Regions from separate parts of the Homo sapiens genome. Here region 1 is linked to region 2. Evidence: fine-mapped expression QTL. Tissue or cell type: whole blood. Region 2 holds a variant in brackets; the other region holds the start of a gene. All regions are shown on one strand. Distances are from middle to middle.

Evidence for each region. PIP is the estimated chance that this variant, and not a neighbour inherited with it, causes the effect.
Region 1: DGKG starts here. The variant in region 2 is fine-mapped to the expression of DGKG in whole blood (TOPMed, PIP above 0.99).

Annotation. Positions count from the first base shown.
Region 1 is chr3:186,358,683-186,366,786 of GRCh38, reverse strand. DGKG (diacylglycerol kinase gamma) reads left to right here and starts at 4,553. Exons shown (of 25, transcript NM_001346.3): 1 at 4,553-4,841. RefSeq lists a silencer at 4,394-4,483 and an enhancer at 5,268-5,785.
Region 2 is chr3:186,186,711-186,194,814 of GRCh38, reverse strand. It overlaps DGKG (diacylglycerol kinase gamma), which reads left to right. Exons shown (of 25, transcript NM_001346.3): 22 at 6,436-6,613. Among named protein-coding and RNA genes, the nearest start is that of ETV5, 82 kb to the right of the region's middle. RefSeq lists an enhancer at 1-705. The variant A/G (reference allele first, on the strand shown) is at 4,984.

The sequences.
Region 1 (8,104 bases), 170 kb before region 2:
AAGAGTTGCTGACCTGAATTGCTGTTTCTTAGGAAGCAGACACATTAGCAAGTAGTATAATAACTAGGCTTTAAAAAATAGACTACCTTAAGGGAACAGACTATCTTCAATAACTGTATTTTACATTTTTGCATAGCACTTCTAAAACACTTTCAAATAAGCTTCTTCATTTAATCATTACCTTGAGATGCATGTATTACTATCCCCACTTTGCAGAAGAGGAAATTGGAGCTTAGAGACTCAGATTAGCTCTTTTGACTCCATCTAATTCTAAATTATCTATTTATTATTCTGAACCCCATGGCTTCTCCTTTGTGCTTTCCTTCAAGCTTATCAGTTGATATTGTGAGAATTTTCCCAGCTTGCCTTGTGGAGGGCCCCACCCAGGCAAGGGGGCGGTACTTAAAAGTTGTTCAGTTGCTAGTACTTAACAGAGTATCAGTGCCAGAAAGGGTTGTAGGGACCATTTCCAGCCTCCTTATTTTCTAAGAAAACTAAAATGAGGGAATCTCCTGCCTACATTCCCAGGGCTGGATCCCAAATCCCATTCATGGCAAAACTGTGACCAGGAGCTCCTGGTTCTCCTGTTTCCAACCCACAGTCTCACTCCACCACAGCCTTCACAGTCAAAACCAAGAGGAAAGTTAAGGTTCGGACTTGGCTAGTATCTGTTCCCATCCTGTCATTGCTTGATAACATGGAAAGATTCCATTAATTATGAGATCATAAAATATTAGGTGGAAGACAGCTTGGAGATAATCTGGTATAATCCTTTGTGTTCTGTACATGGGAAAAGTGAGGCCTAAGAAGGCGAGCAGAACCCCCCCGGCCCACCTTGCGGTTGGTGACCCTGAACTCAGCTGTGCTCCAACTGTCAAGTGCTGTTCGCTCAGCTTGTCAGAGACAGTGGGACTAAAAATTTCCAGACACAGGTACCTGACTCAGCCCTCGCTTTGCCTTGGCAGTGGAGATCAGGCATCAGCTGCTGGCTTGGATGATGTGTTCCCAGAGCAACATGGTGAGTGTGAGCTGCCAACATTGAAGTCTCAGGGAATGTAAAGTGTTGAACCAGTTAAACATCCAAAAATGCCCCGTCTCTCAGAAACAAGGGTGACTCATCACAGCGCTTGGGCTACAATTGGGAATGGCATTAGGGTGGCTGTGGCGGCTAAAAATCCATGCTTAGAAGCCCCCAGCTTCGTTTCCTCTGGCTTTTTGTTCGCAGGTCTTTTCTCTGGCTGAGAACCAACATACACATGCTCCACTGCCAAACCCAGCCCTCCTCCTCCATGAAGCCTGCCTTGACTCTTTCAGCCCAGAGGAGGTCTCCTTTCTCAAGCCCTGAGAATCTGCCCTGTGCAATTTGGCACTTGATTCCATACTGTCGTTCACTGTTTCTTAACCAGTGGAGCGTTTGTTTTATAACTGACATGGATTGCAAAATCTTTGAGGAGAGGCACTAAGCTTCCTCCTCTGTACCCTACAGTAAGTCTCAGGGTGTCACCACAGAGCAGAGACATGCTCAGACTCACAGATAGTCCTGACCTCAAGACTCTTTCTGCTTTACCTTATGTTTGCACATACAGCAAATGCCCAATAAATCCTCACTTGTTTCACCGTAGCTTCAGCCTTTTCAAATAAAGAGCTCAGTTGCAGGGCCTCTGTCAGCCCATGCAAATTAGAGAAAAGGCATCCCTCCCTCCAGGCAGACATAACCCTAACAGGTTGTGTGGCTGGGCAAGTGGGGCATGAGTTGGATTTCAGCCCCTTAGCTGGGTGCCCTCTGCAGCAAGCCACATAAGCCACCTGGGCTCTGGCTCTTCGTGAGAGCAGCAACAAGGACTCCCTCCCCACAGTGCTCCATTCTGATGGGGAAGGCCTACCTTGGGAAAGCTGGCATCAGATACTTCCCAGCTTGCTTCCCAGCTCATTTCCCATCAAAAACAAACAACAAAAAATCCACACCTGCCATAGCTCCTCACTGTGGAACCCAAGTCTATGCTCCCAGAAGAGCATTTGGAGACTCCCACAATACTGTCCCAGCCTTCTTTTCTTGTGCTGGGAAGACCCAGAACTCACCATGAATTGTCCTACGTCTCTGCTTTTGCTTTCTCCCAGCCTAGATTGCCCTTGTCCTGTTGATCTTTAAGTGAGATCTCTATTCCCCTTTAAAATCCGATCGCAAACCCTACCTCCTCCATGATGCCTCCATTAGCACTAATTGTTCTTGGTGCTTCTTCCCGCCCCATCCCTCTTTGCCTTCCACATTGCTTCAGCCTCTACTACCACCCTTTTCCTCCATGTTATTAGCATGTAACTCAGTCCACACAGCCTTCTCTGAACTCCTTCTGCAGCAACTCAGATGCATCATTTGGCTCCATCCTGATCCTAAAGGAATCCATTTGCAAGCAAACCGATGAACAATATTGACTTTACAAATGATTTCTTTCATAGGACCGGGGGCTTTCATAGCCCACCCCACAGCAAACTACTTACCAATCTTTGCAAGCATCTCCCCTGTCCAAATCCCTGGACAACTTGGCAACCCTGTTGCCTGTTCTCAGGCAAGTTGCTTGGCAACCCTGTCCTCAGAGCTCCTCCCCTCTCGTTACCCTTCCCCAATGTGCTCTCAACGAAGCTAAGGCTCCACACTCAGTCTCTGCATGTCTTCTTCATTTGTTCCATTCAATTTATTTCCTTCCTGTCCTAATAGGCAGAGCAACTCAATGTTGTCCTAACACCTATTTGCAAACATGTACCCCAAGTCCATTATGATGCTCAGCCAAACACAGGGTCTCCTTCAGTTTAGCCTTCTTTAGAAGGAGTCAAGAATAGACAGCCAGAATGTTTTTCTTGTGACATGTATGTGCATTTTCCTCCATTGAGCATGCAGTCAAAAAAAGCAAGGATTGTGTCTTCCACATCCATGCAACCTAGCAGAGTGAAAATATATACCAGAAACCTGTGCTCAGGGCTCCTCTCTTCCAGGGATGAGGACAGTTCTAAGCCCTTTCTGTCTCTCAGTTCTTCTTTCCTCCCAAGTAAGGCCCAGGACTGGAGTTACGGGGAAGCACCTGAAGACAGAGTAGGAGTTTAATAAATAGCTGTAAAATGAATGAGTCAGTGACTGAAGAGGAAAAAAAGAAAGGACAAGGAAGAACTTTGAAGGCACCCTCACCAAGATTATTTCAGCCTAGCTGAAGGAAACTTTGAGAAGCCACCCAGGGTGATAGAATGGATAAGACCCAGAGGATAAGAGGAGTCGCAAACACGGGGTTCTGGTATCAGCTCTGTCTTCATCACTGTGTGGAATCTTAAGGAGATCTCTCAGCTCTGTTTCTCATCTGTCTCACCAGCCTGCCTGCAGATAGCCTAGTATGGACACCACCCAACAGGGTCCTCAGGGCTGTTTGACATTCGTGTTTGAGGCTTCTTCCCCAAATGCACAGACACCCAGAGCCCCTCGGCGCCTCCACACTCTGCGGAAAGCTTTTCTTGGCTGCAGTGCTGGCCCGGGGACCTTCACTGCCCACTGGCAGAAAAGAATTCTCGGCTGTGGAAATGAGTAAACTCCACATATTTTAAAGATGACAGTCTAAACTCCTAATGACTCTAAATGTGGTGTGAAATGGACAGCAGTCATCTTGCTGTGTGACATGCCTGAAATAGTGTCACCACCACCATCACCCCCTCACGTGGACATGCACGTCATGGAAAGAGAAGCAACAAGTCATAGTGCCTTGGCTAATGTAGCTCCCCTATTCCCCCCGACCCCTCACCCCAGCGTCTTTTCTGTGCTCTTCTACATTTTAAAAAAAGAAGAGATCTATTTATTCTGCAGGAATACAGTCCAAGGTCACCTAAAAGCAAAGGAGAATGGGAATTAAACACACCCAGAGACCCGACCCATCCAACAGAGTCCAGCTCAGGCAGGCTGTGCCAGTCTCCACCAGGCTACGAGGGGAAAACCTTTTCGAGTTGAACTGCCACCAATCCACTGCCACCGAAGTCAAGGTTGTCAGAAATGACCCTCTGGACAGGGCTAGTGATTTGGATCCTAGAGATACTGAGTTCCTGGGAAACAAAGAGAACTTGTTGATTTTGTATTTTTATTTTTTCTTCGATTTGGTCGGGATATTACGGTAGCCTTGACCAGAGTTGAGAAAAGGAAACGCCCAGTCGGTATTTATTTGTCAAACAGTTGTCCTTTGCCTCCGGGGTCAGGGGCCCTCTGGTACCCACCACTGTTGCATCCTCTCCACACTCCTAAGCCTGTAACTCCTCCTCCCAAACCGAAGCCCTGTCAGTAAAAAGCGTCCTAATGATGCCCGCGCCCTAGTTGCACCAAAGGGGGTCAGGTTCCCATCGAGCGGATCCACATTCGTGTGTGCGCACGCGTGTGCATGTGTGGAAGCGCGTGTCTGTGTGTGCCGTGTGTGTACGCGCGCGCGCCGGTGTGTGTGGCGGGGGCGGGCTCTGCGCCCGGGGGCAGGGCTCCGCAGTGAGAGTGGCAGCTGGACTTGCCAGGCTGCGAGGGGCAGGGCACAGAGCCGCAGTGCCGTAGTAGCGGGCCACGGAGATAGACAGCTTTGGAGCTGCTGAACTCCGAGCACAGGGTGAAGACCCCGGCGCTACCAACCACAGCCTGGCAGCCTGGTCTCCGCGGCACCCACTGGGGCTGCATCCCCCTCCCCCGAGAGGGCTGCGCAGGCGGGAAGACGCCCAGAGGCCAGCTTCGGTCCCCCTTCTGTCTCTCGGTTCCTCTTTCCTCCCAAGTAAGGGAATAAACCGCGAAGAAGGAGCGCCCCGGGCCACCGCGCAACCAAGTGTTGCCTGGTGAGGTAAGACGGCGGCCGGCGCGGCGGAGGGGGTCCCCGGCTCAGGGAGCACCCGGTGCAGCAACTTGGTAAAGGAGGGCAAAGCGGGAGCCGGTCCCGCGGCCAGGGAAGGGGCTGCAGCCAAAGCCACGGCGCCCACCCCGACAGTTCCACCTGCCACAAAGCCCTGCAGGAAGGGATGCCCCGCTCGAGGGGTGCAGGCTTGGGGAACGCACAGGGTGGGGCTCGGCTCTCTCTGCGACTGAGAGGCCCCCTCAAGCCTCAAAGCTGTGCGGGTGGGAGGCGGCCTTGCTCCAGGCAGTTTGCTAAAGCAACTGGTCGGATTTCCTTCTTCTTCTGGACTTAACCTTGGCTCCTTGATATCCAGTTCGCGCTCCAGGCAGTCCGAGAAGCAGGAGATGCTTTTCCTAATGTCTGGCCGCCAAAGCCTCCGACCGTCCCGCGGGGTTCTAGGACTTTGGGGGCACTCCACAAAGCCCCTGCGCAGGGCGACTTAAAGGGAAGCTGAAGCGAACACGGACACCTCAGAGAATAAAGGAGGGAAGGGTCGAATCTGAGGTTGATCTGTGTAGTCTCAGAGTCACAAGATGTGTCCGTGTGTGTGCTTGTGTCCTGAGGAGTGCGTACCCGGAGTCACCTGTGGTGCTTTCGCAGACTCCACCGGTCCACCTCCCCTTGCCTAGTCTGAGATTTTCTTCGTTTGAACTAGTGGAATAGAATTAGGGGAGGGGGCTGTGGAGTTCTAAAAAGCCCTACAGGTGATTTGACGTGCTGCCCCCATCCCCACCATCACTGCAGTGGAAAGCTTGGGACTAGAGCTAGAACCACCTCCCAGATGGGAGGGATGAGCTGCGGAACTCAGGGTGGCGGTCGAGACCCCTCCCCCAGTCGCCCCCCGCGGCGGGAGCGTCTGCTGCAGCGCGAAGCGATCTGTGGCTGCGCCGCAGTGGTGCCCGGGAGCGCTGTGAACCCGTGGGCGCGCTCTCCCGCGCTGCGCCGCTGCCTCCTCGGACTTCATTAGCATACGATGACCTCTCTGTGGGGAGGAGGGCCTGGGAGGGCTGTTTGTCATTCCTTTATTTTGGGGGCTTGGCGACGACACTTTGGATCTGGAGGTGAACACCAGGGGTCATGATGAGAGACAGTGGTCAGGACACAGGACTGGAAACGACCCCTCTGGTCTGGATGGGGGAATCAACTTTGTTATTTTGGTGCTTGGGATTCTCTGTCTGTAAAATACAGCTGGCAGAGCCACTTGCTGGCACACAGGGCACCCTGGTTGTCAATGAAGGAAATTAGATCATAGAGGGCAAATGTCGAGGTTTGGTCATGAACCCAGGCACAGACACACACCCCTTTATATTTTATGTCCCTCTCACTCTCATTCCAGGCATGTGTCTAACATGGGAAGGTACTTAACTGTTTGTCATATTAAAAGACTACATTTGCTGGAGATTCCATTCCGAATATGAATTATACTCCTTAAATAAAACGGCTGCAACTAAGCCAACTTCCCGGTCGTACTCCTGATCTATGTCTTTTTTGCCAATCACCCTTAACGTTTACACCCAGCACTATAGGCATTACTACAGGTATTTTTCTGGGAGGGGCTTTAGGGTGGGAAGCTAGTAGATGAGTCTTTCCTACCTTAGAATTTTATGGAGTGGTTGGTTCAGATCAACCGAGACATGGGGAGAAAACGACAAACATCAGCGTGTCTTGAAATCTAGACTCTCAGAGATGGGAGTAACTACTAAGATCATCTGTTCCAGCTCCCCCAACTGCTCCAACTCCCCACACAACACCATCAACAGATGGTGAGGATCCCTCCAACCCGGACACTCCCAGAGGCCCAGGCTGTGCATGTGTGAGCCTCTGCGAGGAAAGAACCCAGAAGCCAGCAACTCTCCCCTCTCCTACTGATGGGAGTTGGTGGATGCTGGCCCCATCTCCTCCCCTGGAAGAGAAGGGGGAAAAGGGCGGGGAAGTACCTTTTCTTTGTGGTAAAACTTTAAAACTTTTAAAATGTATATCTTATTGTATTACATCATTATAATGTACTCTTTTAGTATAAAAGTAATTCATGTTCATTGCCTAAAAATTGGGAAGTTGAAAAGTATGCAAAGAACAAATCAATCACCCATGATCCTACCACTCCCATCCCACACTGTTAATATACTGGCATATTTCCTTTCCATCTGTTTTTATGCCTCGAAATTATACAATCCATAGAGAGCCAGCATTTATTGGGTGCCTAATAAGTATACTTTGCATGGTGTTAAATTTTATATTCATTATATCCTTTAATCCTCAGGAGTCCCTCTGAGGTGTTATTACTATCAATCCCATTTTTCTAGGGTTGCATTTTTCTAGGGTTCTAAGACTTCAGGTGACTTGCCCAAGTTACATAGCTAGTATGTGGCAGAATCAAGATTCAAACCCAGGCTGTCTGACTCAAAAGTATGGTTGCTGAGCCCCTGTAGCTATTGGTTCTCTGCTTTTTTCTGAATTAGTGTTGTAGCAAAAGACCTTCATGAACATTGTTTTCCTGGCTGCATATTATTACACTGTTAGTTATTTAAGTTGCTTCCTGTCTTTAGCAACTACAAATAACTCTGGGCAAAGTCTTTACTGCACACACTTCCCATTACTTCCTTTGGATAGATGCCTAGAAATAGATCACCAGGCCAAAGGGCATGAATGTTTTAAGGCTCACAGTATATATGAGAAGCCACTTTTCAAAAAGGGTACACTAATTTAGGATTCCATTCACCAGAAACAACTCGGCCATAGTTCAAGCAGATGACCTTTAGGAATCCAAATAGGCCAAGGCCTCACACGACCAAGCCACATCACACGAGCATTCTTCAGTCTCATGGAAGAAGGAATCACACATATCACCTTGCTTTATACACTCGGGAGGGATTATGGAAACCATACAACATAAAGCTATACCTATTTTTATGTGAGCAAGTATCAGCTGCAGAATTCTCTAGCTAAATGTCACATACTAACTTTGAACAAATCAAACCATCATGTAAAATATACAAATGTGTATAATGTCCCACTTCTCCATACAAGTCATTATAACAACATTCACTCTTGTGAACGTGCATCATGATCACAGCCAGGTTCAGCAAGCTTAACCCATCAGCAACAGCTTCCTCACATACTGGCCATATTCAAAGAGTTGTTTATTTGTACCAAGTATCAGAATTCCACACCCAACCATAGTGAGAGCTGATGTCACTTTATAAGTAACAGAG
Region 2 (8,104 bases):
TTTTTTTTTTTAAAGAAAGACCAAGAAAGAGTCGTGGAAGATGGGAGGGACAATAACTCAGTGACAGGGTACCCAAGAAAGAGAAAATTCCCAGCAGAAAGGGGACACATGCCTCCCGGAGCTACCGAGTCCTGGCTTCCACCTCCGATCTGGCCTGGTGGAGGTCATTCCTGAGAGCAGACAAAGCCGAGTGGCAGGCCTATAAACAGAACCGTCTGCGTCCAAACCAAATCTGTGGCACGGTGAATCGAGGTTAGAAGAAGGGGGAATTTCCTAGTTGCTAAAAACTGAAACAGGTCATCAAATAAATTGTGGAATCTCCTTCCCTAAGGCCCTTCAGAAATAGGATCGACAGGGCTGGAGTGGAGGGGCCCCCGCCCGCCGCCCTTTTGAGGTCACGGCGCAGGAGAGAAGGAGGGCGCGGAAACGCCGGCACCGGCTGGGAAGCTTCGGTGCTCCGGGTCCCTCTTGGCGAGGGCGGAGAAGTCGGCGGCCTCTGCCTAGAATTCTGTGATTGTAGGGATCGAGACATCAAGGGCGGGGGTGCAGAGGATTACAAGTTCCCTAGCGCGTCTCATTTGCACATAAATGTGCTTTGCCTCCTAACCTTGTCTCTGTTACCTGTGCACCTGCCTTCCACCAAACCAACCAACCACCCGTGGCTCAGGAAGAAACCAGAACTGGGGGGATTGTCTTCCCAAGGGGGACACAGTTGAACGTGGCCGGCAGCCTCTGGCCTCCCGGGCCTGGGTTCAGACGGACTCCGGCGCTGCTTCCAAGACCGACATCGGGCACCTGGCCGCCGGCGCACCCAGGAGCACGATTTCATGCGTGTGCACGCTCTCTGCTCGGGCCAGGAGCTCTGTTTCAGCCCCACTCCGGGCTATAAATCCCTGGTTCCGCCCAGCGCAGCCTCGGCTCGGAGGGCAGCCTGCTAGCCAGGTCCTGGGTTAGGGATGGCCCACGGTGCGCGCGGGGACCGCCACACTCCTTAGCGCCACGCTGGGGCCGCGCGGGCCGGAGCAGGGGGAGGGGGCCCGATGACGTCATGGAACAGTTGGAGGATTTAGCTCGGGAACCCGCCGGGGAGCGGGCCCCGGGGCCGGCGTTCCATTTAGGCCGACAGCGTCCCGGGCTCGGCTCCACTTTCCCAGACGGCACGGCTGCCTTCCACGTCCAGAGCGGGCCTGGGGTTCTGAAGGAAATCAGTGCACGATCGCGAGGCCAGGAACTCTGGAGAATGGGCACGCAGGCGTGCGCTTGCCAAGGCTCTTACCAGCCTGGGTCGGGCCAAGAGGCCGTTAAGATGCCTCCAGCAAAGCCTCAGGTAGGGGGAGTGAATTCAGGAAGATAAATGCCTCATGGCACAGAGGTTGGGGAACCTGTGATGATAACGCAGACAGTTACACAGTGCTACTGCATTCCAGACACCCATCAACCCACCCCTTAAGGCAGATGTTATTCCCCTATCCTCCATTTTACAGATGACAAATTAAACCTCAGAGGGGTAAGGAAACAACCTGGAATCACACCGCTGGCAAGTGACAGAGCCAAGATTTAAACCCATGTCTCTCTGCCTTCAAGCCCAGGCAGGCACGTTCTTTCCAAGACACTACATTGGCTCTCACTTTCCAAGTAGGTGCATTCCAAGAGGGAGGGAGGACATCAGCGTCCAGCAGACCCCAGGCTTCTCCCATCTCCTCTACTTGCCCTATCTACATGGGACCCACTGCGGTAATAGGGGAAGGGGACAACCTAGAAAGCAGAGTGAGGATTGCCTGCTCTTCCAGGAAGAGGTAAACGTTTACCAAGTTAATAGCAAACACACTTAGCTGGCTATGGATAGAGATGGAGGGGACAGGGTACAGTTAAAACTGTAGTACGGAAGAAAGGTGACTTTGTGGAATACTATTTGTCAAGGACTGTGCTGGTGATGTACTTTTTTAAAAAACAAACCTGGTGCGGAGGCAAGATATAATAATATTAATATCCAACATTGATGTGCCAGGCATTGCTCTAAGCACTCTATAAGATAGAGCAGTAGTGGGAGATCTCAATTATTCAAACAGCTGGAAGTTTAATTTTGCTATAAGCCTAGCATCAGCAAAAATCCCGATTTGCCTCACTGACTCATCTCCAGCGTAGGATCTGGCATCTGCCTTCCTAGGTTTGCATCCTGGCTCTGCCATCTTGTAGAGTAGGAAGCTGTGGAGCCTTGAGCAAGCATCTTAACCCCTAAGAGGCCCTGTCAGTTGGGGGTAGCAATGCTGCCTCCCTCATCATGTTCATGTGAAGATCGCAAGAGATACTATGGGTGAATCCCAGCACAGTGCCCTAGAAAGCTCTCACCAAGCATGAGTTGCTAATATTATTCTTATTACTGCTCAGAAGGGAAAGGGATGTTTTGACCAACAGTGAATAAATTGAGATGATGTAGAAGCAACTACAGCCAAGATGGGGAAGTGGCTGCTTCATCTAGAGGGTGATAAGGATAAAAGAAAATGTGGGCCAGGCCCGGTGGCTCACCCCTGTGATCCCAGCACTTCCGGAGGTCAAGGCAGGTGGATCACCTGAGGTCAGTTCAAGACCCGGCTGGCCAACATGGTAAAACCCCATCTCAACTAAAAATAGAAAAAAAATTAGCTGGGCGTGGTGACAGGCACCTGTAATCCCAGCTACTTCAGGAGTCCAAGGCAGGAGAATGACTTGAACCCGGGAGGCAGAGGTTGCAGTGAGCCAAGATCACACTACCGCACTCCAGCCTGGGCGACAAGAGCGAAACTCTGTCTCAAAAAATAAATAAAGGAAGAAAAAAGAAAGTGTGATCCAATGGGACTCTAGCCTAAATCTCTAATTAGGAATATGTGTATGAAGGATAGGAGGGTAGAAGACATTCCAAAATAAGTTTCTAAGAAGTCATGAATCACACTGAAAAGAAAAGAAAAAGGAGTCAGTTTTTGTTTTTCAATCAATGTGACAGCAACAGAGAGTGTTGGTTGAGCCTATGCTTTCAGGAAACTGTACACATACACGCAAAGGCAGAGCCTGGGCATGCAACCAGGTAGGAATACACAAAAGCAATTCAGACCTGTGAGCCTGGCTTCAGGCTAACTGAAGGCCCAGCTGAATGCTAGACAACGTTTGAAGTGAAAAAGAACATAGAAAGCATAGCTCAACAGGACTGTGCCATTCTGGAAGAGTTTTCATCTTTTCCAAAGAGAGTGGCCTTAAACTAAAAATGGAAGAAAAGATGCCAAAGGTGGATACTAGAACCCAAGGTAAATCAATGGAGAACTAACTGGCTTTGAAACACACACACACATTTGAATCCAAGTTGCTGGACAAGCCTGTAGGTGTCATTCAGGGGCCACTTTGACAAATCCAGAAAACAGAGTAGGTTCTAGCCAATAAGAGGCAGACAAATATGGCTCCAGTGTTCAAAAAATAAGAATAGGGTACATTTTGGAAACCACAGACTGATACACTTTATTCTGATCCCTGGCAAGATTCTAGAATAGATTATTAACAAAGTATTTAGGCTTTGCACACAGATATTGGTGACTTAGTTGAGTTATCTTATTGCTTTTCTAATAGAGGTTGTAGGGTGGTCACTTAGGAAATGCTGTTTGATCTCGGCACAATGTTTTATGTTTTCATGGAAAGAACGCAGGATTGAGGTCTGGAGACCTGGATACATATCTAGCTCCACCACTAATAAGTCAGATGACCACAGAGAAGTTTCTTAACCTCACTGGGGCTCATTTATGAAAGATGAGGCATGAAAGATGAGAGGCATCTTCCCTTATGTGCCTCTCATCTCTAAATTCCATCATCTGTCTAATAACAAAAAGTAGGCTGGGTGACAGTCCAGTCCAGAAGATGCAGCTCCGATAGAGCAGCCATACCCCAAAGGATGTTAACGCATAATGTTTGGTGTTAAACTGACCAAGGAGAGTGCTCGGTCACTGTTTTTTCCTTTTATGCGCACATATTAATGACTTAATCCCCAAATGATGGGAACGCGATGACAAAAGGTCACAGAATGAAGATTGGAAGTAAGCTGGGTAGACTAGAGGAAACACGGGCTGAGAGCCAGATGAAATTAATTAACATAAATGTAAAGTTTTATGTCTATGTTATTTTTTAAAATCTACACAGGTTCAGAATGGCGAAGAACTGGATGAAAAATAGATCATGAGATGATCTGGGCAATGAAGATGACCACCCATTTAAGCTGAAGTGATGTTGTCATCTAGCCACTAACAAAATGGCCAGTGCAATCTTTATCAATTGGATAATAAGGATAAGGATAATGATAATGGATAACGTGCTGAACTCTTACATGAGCTTTGCACGTCATCTCATTTCTGGGGCATGATAGTATCATAAAATTTCAGCCACAAGAAGTACTGGTGTGGTAGCCACCTGCCCCCATTAGATCCCGTCGTTGATGTAGTTTTCAATGTTGGGGGTCTTGCCAAATAGCAGGGTAACAAACTAGAGTGTGTGCAAAACAGGGAAGCCGGGATGGGAAAAGATCTGAAAACCAAGTCTCATGGGAGAAGATGAAGAGAGTTGACAGTCCAGAGGTGGCACAACCTGGTAGTAGTGTGAGAGGGAGGAGAAATAAAAAACTTGGGCTCTGACTACCTGCCCTTAAATCTGTGTACTTCCACTTGTAAGTTGTGAACTTTGGGCAAGTTACTTAACCTCCTCTGTGCCTCAGTTTCCCCAGTGTAAAAAGAGGATAGTCATAGTAACTAACTTATAGGATTATTAGGAAGATAATAAATGAGATGTGTATAAAATTGTGTGTGGTAGATGGCAGTGCTGAATACATGTGCACAATGGTGATCTTCATCATCATCATCATCTATCTAGGGGGTGGCCTATGGAGGAGGAAGGAGGGTCATTCTGTATGGGTTCAGAAGGGAGAACAGGACCAACTGGTGGAAACAAGAGTGAGAGAGAATCCAGATCAAC[A/G]TAAAGAGACCTCTCAAATTATCAGAACTTCCCAGTGAAAAAATGAGTTCGCAGTTACCAGAGTTGCTCACTGTATGCCATCTTGTAGTTGGGGAAACAAGATAACATAATGTAAGAACTGCAAAGAAATCAGGAGGTGAGTCACTATGAATGGCAACAAGTCTTCTAGTCCTGCTCTGTTGATAAGTCTCTGGAAGTTTGGGTTTGTACGTAACCTCAGAGATAGTGGGTTTTTATTGTATGCCTTTGATTTTTTCTTTCTCCCAATAAACAACATAAAGACCATGTACTTTGTACTCAAATCCCCCAACTTTGAATCCCTGCTCTGTTATTTATTAGCTGTGCAAGCTTGGATAACTTAGCTCAAGTCTCTGGGTCCAGTGTTTGCTTCTGTAAGTGAAATAAACTACCTACTATCCTGAGGAACAAGGATCAGAGCTGATATTTCTTGCTGTGTTGGTAAGCACGATGCCAAAGTGGGCTGACTTTATAGACATGTGAGATGAAAATTCAAGCCTTCTGGCTTTTTGTACCTGGTGGGGACTGCAAGTTGTGGAGATTGGATAAAGAAACTCTGCTCCTTCAGCAAACACATATGCCAAAATTGCATTTATGATACAGATACAGGAGACAGGCAGATTCTGAAAGCCTTCCAAAGCTTAAAGTCTTGTGCTTCTCACAGAGAGATAAAATAGGAGGGGGCAAAATGAAAATTTTCTGGCCAGGCGTGGTGGCTCACTCCTGTAATCCCAGCACTTTGGGAGGCTGAGGCGGGCGGATCAACAGGTCAGGAGATCGAGACCATCCTGGCCAACGTAGTGAAACCCCGTCTCTACTAAAAATACAAAAACTAGCCAGGCATGGTGGCAGGTGCCTGTAATCCCAGCTACTCGGGAGGCTGAGGCAGGAGAATCGCTTGAAACCGGAAAGTGGAGGTTGCAGTGAGCCGAGATTGTGCCACTGCACTCCAGCCTGGGTGACAGAGCAAGACTCCATCTCAAAAAAATATATATATATATGAAAATTTTCTGTCATTTGTTATGTTCTGAATTTTCTGTCATTTGTTAGGTTCTGAATTCAGTTCCACTAAATCTTCTAATGGTTAGGAAGGGGCAAGATTGATGATAATGAGATTAGACTGGAGAACAGTTTGACAATTGACTTAAGAACCAGCCCTAAAGCACTTCTAGACCTAAAGATGACCCTGGAGCCTGTACTGTATTCCCCGGAGCTGACCAGGACTGGATCTGTCATCTCACCACAGCAGTCAAAGCATTAAGTCTGAGCGACTTTGCCCATGATTTCTCTTCTGACAGTGGCAGGGTGGTGGCTGAGGACCTGTCACATCCTTTAAGAGAGTACACACACACACACGCACGCACACACACAGAGCACCTTGGGTTGTGACACACTGAGGACACTAACAGATGGCCTTTTCTCTCCGTCCTCCAGTGTGATGGGGTTGGGGTGGACCTGAGCAACATCTTCCTGGAAGGCATTGCCATTCTCAACATTCCCAGCATGTACGGAGGCACCAATCTCTGGGGAGAAAACAAGAAGAACCGGGCTGTGATCCGGGAAAGCAGGAAGGGTGTCACTGACCCCAAAGAACTGAAATTCTGCGTTCAAGGTAAGCCAGGAATGAGGATAATTGTTTTAGGTCAATGCCCAGTAGTAGGTGCCCTCAGGTGGATGTCAGCAGGCCTCGTAAGGCCCCACAGCCCAGCAAGGACTCCATGCTCTGCGGATATGCTGACTCGTCATCCGATGTTGCAAAGTTTACAACTTAATCCAGAAGACAAAAATTCACAATAAGGGTGTCCTCAATGACAGTCAGTTGTCAAGCTGTGGGGCTCCATGAGGTTCAGAGTCAAATGCTGCCAATGTCAAGGTTACCAGGGTTCTCCAATAGCTAAATCCAATAGTCAGTTCCTAACCCTCATCTTGCCACAGCTGTCAGTGGCATGTGACCCAGCTGATCACTCCCTCTTCCTGGAAACGCTTGGTCCACTTGGCTTCTAGGACTTGATTTGCTCATGGTTTTCCTCCCCGCTCACTTGTCACTCCTTCTCGGTCTCATTTCTCTCTGACCTCTTGATGCTGGAGGATCCCCAGGCAGGGTCCTTGACCCTCTTCTCTTCACTGTCTGTACTTAAGCCCTTGATCACCCCATCCAGTCATAAGACTTTATTTAAATACCATGTGCTTACTCATGATGCCTCCAGCCTGTCTCCAGCTTTCCCTGAGCTCCAGGCTCCTATGTCCAGCAGCCTGTGTCATACTTCCCTTATGTGTTTAGCAGACACCTCAAACTTGGTATGTCCAATGCAGAGCTCTGCTGTCCCTCCCCCAAACCTTCTCCACTCACAGCCTTATTTCTCTCCATTGGTAACTCCAGCCTTCCCATCACAAGAGCCAAAACGCTTGGCATCATCCTTGACTCCCCTTTTTATCTCACGGCTCACAGCCAGTCCATCAGAAAATCTGTTAGCTACTTTTAAAAAACATCCAGGATTCAACCACGTCTCACCACCTGCATTCCTGCCATCTTGATCTGAGCCACCATCCTCTGTCCCCTGGATTACTGCAAAGCTTCCTCACTGGGTTCCTTGCTTCTATCTCACTGCCCTAGGTAGCCTGTTCTCACCACCACATCAGAGCAGTCAGGTTATGACACTCCTCTTCTCAAAATCCTGCAGTGGCTTGGAGAAAAAGCCAAAGATCACGTGGCCTAGAGGGCCCCGTATGTTTTGGCCTCTCATTACCTCCCAGACCTCCTCTTCTGCCACTCTCTCCATCGCTCACTCTGCCTCCTCCACTCTGGTTCCTCCAACACAGCAGGCTGCTCCCATGAACCAACTATTCTTTCTGTCTGGAACAACTGGGTAGTATGCTTTAGAGGCCACCAGCTGGGCCTTCCACTTTTAACTCACCAGAATACAAACACAGCTTTCTGAGAATGTCCTTAAAACCACCTCTACCCCAGCCCCAAAAGTAGCCATTTTCCACCAGTGATCCAAATGGAGAGATTCAATCAAAGCTCCTGGCAGCTGATTCCCCTGTGGGCTCACGGGTCCTCACAGGTCCTCAATGGACAGGTGAGCTGGAGGAGAAAGCCAGG